2 linked regions of the Homo sapiens genome follow. The protein of the gene in region 2 purifies or fractionates together with the protein of the main gene of each other region. This does not show direct contact. Each region holds a gene or a part of one and is shown on either strand. Other genes may lie near its edges.

Region 1 (3,815 bases), about 58 Mb from region 2:
GGCAATATGTTCCCTATTAGGCAGAGCCCAGAGGCCACCAGTGATACCAGGCTCCCAGCCAAGGCCAACAGGTATCAGGCAGACAGGTAATGGCCCAGGCAGAACATACACAGTCACAGCTGAGAGAGACAGTGTGACAGACACAGCAAATGGAGGCACTGAAAGAGAGATACAACCTGGGGAGGCTGTGTAGCCCCGTGTGGCAGCAAGCCCAGGAACAGGATGGCAGCACTCAGCCACAGGCAGCCCAGGGCCCAAGGCGGGAAGGTCTGCTCAGTATCAGCTCAAAAGGGACTTCCCACCAACAGAGTCACCACAAGGGACATGGGCTCCCCAACATCCAAGGCACACGGTTGGGGGGTGCCCTCAGCTGGAGAGTGTGACTGAGCTAACCTGCCGAGCCCCTGGCCGTGGCTCGCCAAGGACTGGCTCCTAGCCTGCCTGCCGCTGGGGGCCTTTTAGGGGTGTGGGAGCCAGCCCTCTTTTCCCTCGCCAGGCTCGCTGCCAAGGTCTACGGGGCAAAGCCCTACTCTCTGAGACCCTGGTGCTATGCCAGCCACATGCTCCCCTCCCAAACCGCCATAGCAGACTTCATCAGGCACCCGCACCTCCCAGCACACGGCCCCTGCCCAGCGAGGCTTCGCATCCAGAGCCACCCAGGAGACCAGGCCAGTGGAGCCGCAGGCGGGACCCCCAACAGAGGCAGGGCCCAAGGGGCAGCCACCGGGGAGGTGCCAGAAGCCCAGGCTGACAAGTGGTTTGCTGGGATGAGGCCTGGCATCCCACGGAGGCCCTGGGGCCAGAGCCTCCTCCTGCCCTCTGGAGGTACTTTATGGAGCAGAGCCGTGCTGGCCATTCCCCTGCCCCAACCCCAGGGCTCAGGGCTCCACTGTGCTTGCCTGGTCTTGGTTCTGCCTCCCAGCACCTGCTCCCCACTTGGCTGAGCCCAGAGCCCTGCAGGCCTGGACCCTCCCCCAGGCCACACAGGCTGCCCCATACCATCCATCAGCACCCAAGGAGCCTCAAAGGCAGAAGATAGCAGCTGCCTCTGAGTTCCTGTGACCCCCCGGAGCCAGTGGTCCTACCTCCATCTCCTTGAGCACAGGGTGGTCCTCGATCCCAGGAAAGAGCACCCGCATGGCATATGTCCGGTAGTCAAGGAAGGGGATGCCGGCACCGTCCAGGTCATTGGTCAGCTCGTGGATGTCTGTCTGCAGCTCTGCAAAGGCTGTGGCCAGATGCGGCGTCAGGGGCAGCATGCCCTGGTGGCCCCGCTCCATGCCCCAACCCTCCCACTCTTGGGGCCTACATCAAATCCTGGCTCTGACACTTACTGGTTTCGTGATCTTAAGGAAACTACTGTGCCTCTTCGTCCCCCAGCTACTACAGCCCTAGCACAGGGATAGTAACTCTCCTCTGCAAGGTTCCCACAGGATCAAGCAAGACAAGGGCAGAGAAAGCATCAGCACCAGGGGCAGGCTGGGCAGGGCCTCCTGCATCTCAGACACTGGCAGTTAAGCGTAGAGCAGCTTTGGAGTTCGGGCTCCTTCCACCCGCTGTGAGGTGGTGGAGTGCGGCCAGGGGTGAGGTCCCAGGGCTGCAGGCTGTCCCCAAGCCCCCACACCATTGCATGCACATCTCGGGCCTGGTGCACCCTCAACATGGCCCACCCTGCTCAGGGCCAGCTCTGCCTCTGTCAGGAACAAAGGCAGGCAGGCCCTGACAGAACATTCCAGAGCTGTGAGGTGTCAGTCCTGTGGCAGCCCGAGGATCAGGCTATCTGATCAGAAGCCAAAGGAGTGCCAGGCAGGCTCTGGGGGACATCTGACAGGTTTAATTAAGAGCTGGAGTCTTCGTCTCCTGGGCATCGCTGCCAGGCGTCTAGTTATCTGCACCTGGCTGGCCTGGAGCAGCCACCAGCCACTGCATCCACACACGCCAGCCTCGCCAGACAGCCAGCCTCAGCAGGCGGGAGCACAAGGGAGGTCCAGGCCACCTGCCTCCCACCTGGCCCCAACACACACCTGCCTCCAGTCCCACCAGGGCTGCCCAAGAGGTAGGGTGACCCTCAGCCCACCACAGGGCCACTTAGGTTTGTCTGGGACTGAGAGGGCTCCCAGGATGCAGAACTTTGCATTTTAAGACTGGCTGAGTCCTGTGCAAACAAAACACCCCATCCCAGTTGAGTCCCAGTGGAATTCATGACAACCCCATGCTGGACCACATGGCTAAGGTCCTACACTGCAGCAGGAACACTCCTAGTATCTGCCCCCTAGAGCCCTGAACATGTGTGAGTTACTATCTGCAAACGCTCAAAGTCTCGCCCGGCATGGAACAGATTTCTGCCACTCACACCTGCCCTGATCAGGAGCATGGTGTGGCATGACTCCCCCTATAGACATCTCAAGGACAAAGGTCAGCTCAGGCCAAGATCTCTATGTGCCCAGGGACTGCCAAAGCGCAAGGGCTCCCCATTGCTGCATGGTGGAAGCACCCCTCTCTGCTGCTCCGCTGGCACCAGCCAACCCACCACGACTCCCAGCACCCAGGGAAAGTAGGCACTGTCATTGTGCCCACTCTAGAGACGACAAGACTGAGCCACAGAAGGGTAAGTAGCCACCTTCAGCCTTATAGCCCAGCTGGGATACAAATGCAAACAGTCTGGCTTTGGGTTCTGTGTCGCAAGCAGCACCCCAAGGAGGTGGTACCTGCTGCAGGGCCAGGCCCTGGTCAGGCACCCGCCCACTGCCCTGGGACCAGCTCTGGCACAGCAAGGCTATCAGGAACATTGTAAACTGAGCTGAAGCAGGGTGGGGGCGGCGGTGGGAAGTAGGTGTGGGGACAGGCCAGGGCCTGGCTCGGAGGTGGCAGTTGCCCCAGTGAGCCCTGGCCCCAACAGACCTTCCTTGCATTCGAGGGCCACGCGGGACTCCAGGTTGTCCATCTGGAGCTGCAGCCGCTTGAGTGTGCGGTCAGCATCTCGTGACTTGCGCTTGTAGGCGATGAGCACAGCCACGATGACCAGCAGCAGGAGACCCCCGCCTCCGCCAATGCCCACAATGGCAGGCAGCGTCAGCAGGCTGTCCGAGTACACCTGCAGTGTCCCTGGCGAGAACTCGAAGCCACCTGCCCGCACCTGCCAGTGGGTGGAGGCCACTCAGGAGCTTCCCATGCTTTCCACAAAGCTTGGGAGCCCCTCCCGATGGGCAAGACCCACCCCCAACACCTGCCTGTGGGAAAGGTCCCACCGACAGGGGCACAGAGTGGTCACCAGGGTGGAGACACTGGGACCCAGGGCAGGCGCCTGGCCAGCCAGGGCACCACTGGCATGGCAAGGGCTCAGGGTGGGTAGGCAGTCTCGGGGGGCTCAAGGAGGTGGCAGGCTGAAGGCTACGGCAGGGCCTGCACTGGAGCCGGGCGCCCTCTGAGCTAGGGGTGAGTCTCGGGCAAGGTCAGAGCTGGGGCTGTGCTAGTGGGGCAGGGTCCACAGGTGGGGCATGGCTCTCCCAGCTCTGCACCCCCGGTGGACAGACGCACCGTGACCTTGTGCTGCCCAGTGAGGTTGGGCGCCTCGCACAGCAGTTGCGTCTCCGACACGGTGAGGGTACAGGGTGTGGAGCCGATGAGCACCGTGTAGTTGAGTCGGGAGTTGCCGGGTGCAGGTGGCAAGAGGTTCCGGCCCTGTAGGAGATGGGGGTGAGCCAGAGCCCAGGACGAGGGGCCTCTTCCCTGGCTTGGCCCAGCCTACGGGCAATGGTGACCCACCTTGAGGATGAGTGGGGAGCTGGGCTTCAGCTCCAGCAGGCCAGTGGGGC
Region 2 (3,752 bases):
GGCCTAAGTGGCTCTTCCTCTACCCCCTTCCCACATGTAAATGGTGTATTTGGTGAAAGGCTGTCAAAGACCAAAAGAATGTAACCACCATTTGTCTCTTAACTACCCACACCTTTAAAAATTTGCTTCTTTCCCCAATATCCACCCTTTTCCCTTTAAATATTAAAACCCTCAAAATCATCTCTGGAGAAAGGCACAGACCTACCTCTAGGTCATGCATTCATAACCTTTGCCAAATAAACTTTCTAAATTGAGTAAGACCTGTCTCAGATACTTTTCAGTTTTACATCTCTGAGGGGAAGTCTGTCTTTCTAAATTAAGCCATTGTTCCTGAATATAAAAGGTATAGACATGTATCTGAATACATGGGATAGAGCCTCCCCAACTTTCAAACTTACGTATTTGATATAGTTTAAAGAAAAGACGTAAATAAATAGGTGTCTAAAACTGCAAGAATAAAATCTCTAGTCAATATTTTGGTTGGTTAGTCTTGCTCCTAAGTACCAACAAAGCTATTTAATAAAGCAATTGAAGCAATGATCAAGCAGACGCAGAGGAATAATTTGGCCATGAAACTTCACCCAGATGTACTGAGATTCTCCCCAGAAGTGTGTGTGTTGCCAGATTTATTCTACTCCAAGCTGGGTCTTGGAAAACCTTTCAAGGTGAATACTTCCTTTCTATAGGGTGGCATCCAGGAGTCTTCCTCTCTTAAAAAGTTATTCCAAATCTCCTGAAAGAAAAGGCTTTGCCTAATTCCACCTATATTTTCTCCTTCCTTCTGGGGTAATAATATCACTCAGATCCATTGTTCCTGAGGTTTTTCTTTAGACTGTGGCCTGTTACCTGGGCTACTCCAGACGTTCTGGGGTGTCTGGTAGTTTAGATGAACCACCACATTTCTACTCTTCACCTTCCTTAAAAAATGAACACCATAAAGTTTTAAATTAGATCAGACTTTGAAACATTATTTAACCACATTTCGAAGAGAATTTTGTTCAGGATGATTATTTTGGAAGTAACCTACAAAAGATGAAGGTTTGGAACAGTCTTTTATAGGAAAGAGAATGAAGTCCCAGGAACCTTTCCCTGGATTATCTTTATATTGAAGTTACTTTTAAAATAACAGTATGAAGGAAACTCTCAGTTGCTATTAACAATCTGAGTGTGTTTCCCCAACTTTATTTTTATCCTGAGTGAACTGTCTTTGAATTATTCTCACACAAAAAAGAACAAAAGAGGTAAATTTCTTTGTTTTTTTTTTTACCTCTTTGATAACAGCAGAACAATGAAAACATGTGACTCATAATAATTAAAGTACATCTGTGAATTAAACCATTCTTAAAGTTAAATTGTTAGAATCAATATTTGAAGTGAGTAAGCATATTTGTGCTCTGATGGAGAAGAATACATAAGATGTAGAAGAAAAATTAATACAGAACATATTTTCAGAGCAGATGATCTAAGGACTGGCGTTGACACACCATTTACACAGAATAGATGGTTCCTATATACATCATCTGGACTTAGTTGGTGCTCCTTGTGTTTAAAAGTGCTTATTTCATTGCAAATTTCTTGAGAAGGAGGGAGGAGGGAGGACGTATGTCAGTAAGAGCATTTGAGTCCTCTGAAGGTTTAAAAAGTACAGCTTTTCCAGTGTCTTCTCTTTCCTTTTCTAAGGACAGACTTGAGAATTCTCAGCTGACTGATGTGCAGCTCACATGGCTGTAGAGTGGCCTCCTATTTCCTTGCTTGAAAAGGATGTATACGTCAGAACAGGTACATCCTCTGCTTTCAAACCGACTGCAATGGCAGTTTGTTTATCTCATCCATTCAACTGCTTGAGTTGAATTCAGCCCACCCAGGGAGGTAGCAAATGGTGTGCTCCAGTCTCTGGTACTGTGATCAGATCCTGCACAATACTCCTGTGTTGTTGGAAAATGTCTAGGGTGCATCTGCAACATGCCTGATGGTTTTAAAATGTACTCTACAGAGGCCAAATAAAAGAAAGTTACATTGGTCTCAAAAAAGTAGCATTAACAATCTATGTTTCTGTTTTTTTGTTTTGTTTGTTTTATATTCTATCTTCCAAAGAGTCTCCTAGTTGGTACTCTTGGAATTTCACATATTTAAATCCTGACTTGAATTATTTTTCTTTACTGTGTTTCAGGTCTGGAGACACCATGAGAATAAGACTTGCCTTCAATAAAAGGCAATCAGTTCTTTAGAATAGAGAAAAGAGATTTGGCAGGAAATATATCAGCAATGTGTTTAAAACAAAGGTGGTTAGATTCCAATCATACTGGCCATAATTCAGAATAGCTTAAAACAAACCAATTTGTGAGGGCAACTTCAAATTATTGGGAAGAATCAGTTTTAGGCAAAAGGTAACCAAAGGGAAACCTGATTTCCCACCTTCTACTAGTTAATTAAAATGGTCTCTGTGGATAAGTTGCATGAACCAGGCTTATTTCTGAATAATGTCTTTTGTAGGTGTTTCATTAAAATGAAACAGGATAATCCACATTAAGCTACTCAGGCACAGACAGATGCATGTTAGCAAGCTAGGGTGGTTCAGAGGTTCCTCCTGGTCGCAAGCCGGAAATGTATAGCCATTTACTACTGGTCAAGGGGGTCAAAAAAGGCAAGGAAATTTGATACACAAGATGTTTTCACCTATTTTATATGTGAAAAATAAGTTTTATATAGTATTATGTAGCATTAGTTTTGTCTTCTGCATCACAAAGACGAAAGAACCAATTTTATTCACTGAAAAAGTGAGGCTGAGAAGAAAGAGTAAGTCAAGATTAATAATAAGGGGTGGGAAACAGAGACATCCTTTCAAATACATCAGACCTTTGGTAGAATAAAACTTCAGCATACTGGGATTTGTAACCGATGGAGCTTGCTTTAAAAAATACTCCACAGGCTGGGTATGGTGGATCAGGCCTGTAATCCCAGCATTTTGGGAGACTGAAGCAGGAAGATAGCTTGAGGCTAGGAGTTAGATGCTGCAGTGGGCTATAATCACACCACTTCACTCCAGCCTGGGCAACAGAGTGAGACCCCCCTCTCTCAAGAAAAATTCCTGTAAATTAAAACACACACAGGCATGCACCCCCTCCCCCCACCACACACATGCACACACCCACCCACCCACCCCATGCCCCCCCACACACACACACAGAGAGAGACAAAGAGAGAGAGAAACAGGGCTGATACTCAATTGATACACATACATATGACCACACTTGTCAAATAGACATACTTTTTTATTAGTGGATATATAATTACTATCTTAAGCATCCGGAGCATCTCCCACCCCTGTCCCCTTTAGGATTCCAAGGCTGTCCAGTAACTACAGGGTTAATATCTAGCTAGCTGGGCCTTTCTGCCCTGCTCCAGCATAAGGGTGCCAATTTTGATGGTTTGGATTACCCCACCCTGAAGATTGTTATTTATTTAGAAGATCACTCCTGATTTAACCAAAGAAATCAAAGAATGATGTATTCACTCCCCAAAACCCTTTTCAGTTCTCTGACGGATCATCACAGAACTCTTTTAAAGAACATTAGAAAATGGCTTCTGTAGGTGTACTTAAACGCAGACCCTTTCAGCAAACCATCTGGATGAATTAGGGAGGAAGTTCATTTGATTATCATTCTGAGCATTATAAATGTTGGATGAATTATCCGAATAATTACCTCATGATTCCTCTCCACTCTGGCTGGAAACCCAACTTAATTTATGAG

The links.
Region 1: the proteins of TAFA1 (region 2) and PLXNA1 purify together in Homo sapiens (affinity purification with mass spectrometry; one large-scale study listed by BioGRID and IntAct). This does not show direct contact.

The regions. Positions count from the first base shown.
Region 1 is NC_000003.12:127,017,615-127,021,429, reverse strand, and holds part of PLXNA1 (plexin-A1 precursor), read right to left. Parts: coding exon 3,766-3,815; intron 3,682-3,765; coding exon 3,538-3,681; intron 3,137-3,537; coding exon 2,902-3,136; intron 1,229-2,901; coding exon 1,086-1,228; intron 1-1,085. UniProt on the Homo sapiens protein: Coreceptor for SEMA3A, SEMA3C, SEMA3F and SEMA6D. Necessary for signaling by class 3 semaphorins and subsequent remodeling of the cytoskeleton. Plays a role in axon guidance, invasive growth and cell migration.
Region 2 is NC_000003.12:68,539,100-68,542,851, reverse strand, and holds part of TAFA1 (chemokine-like protein TAFA-1 isoform 1 precursor), read right to left. Parts: intron 1-3,752.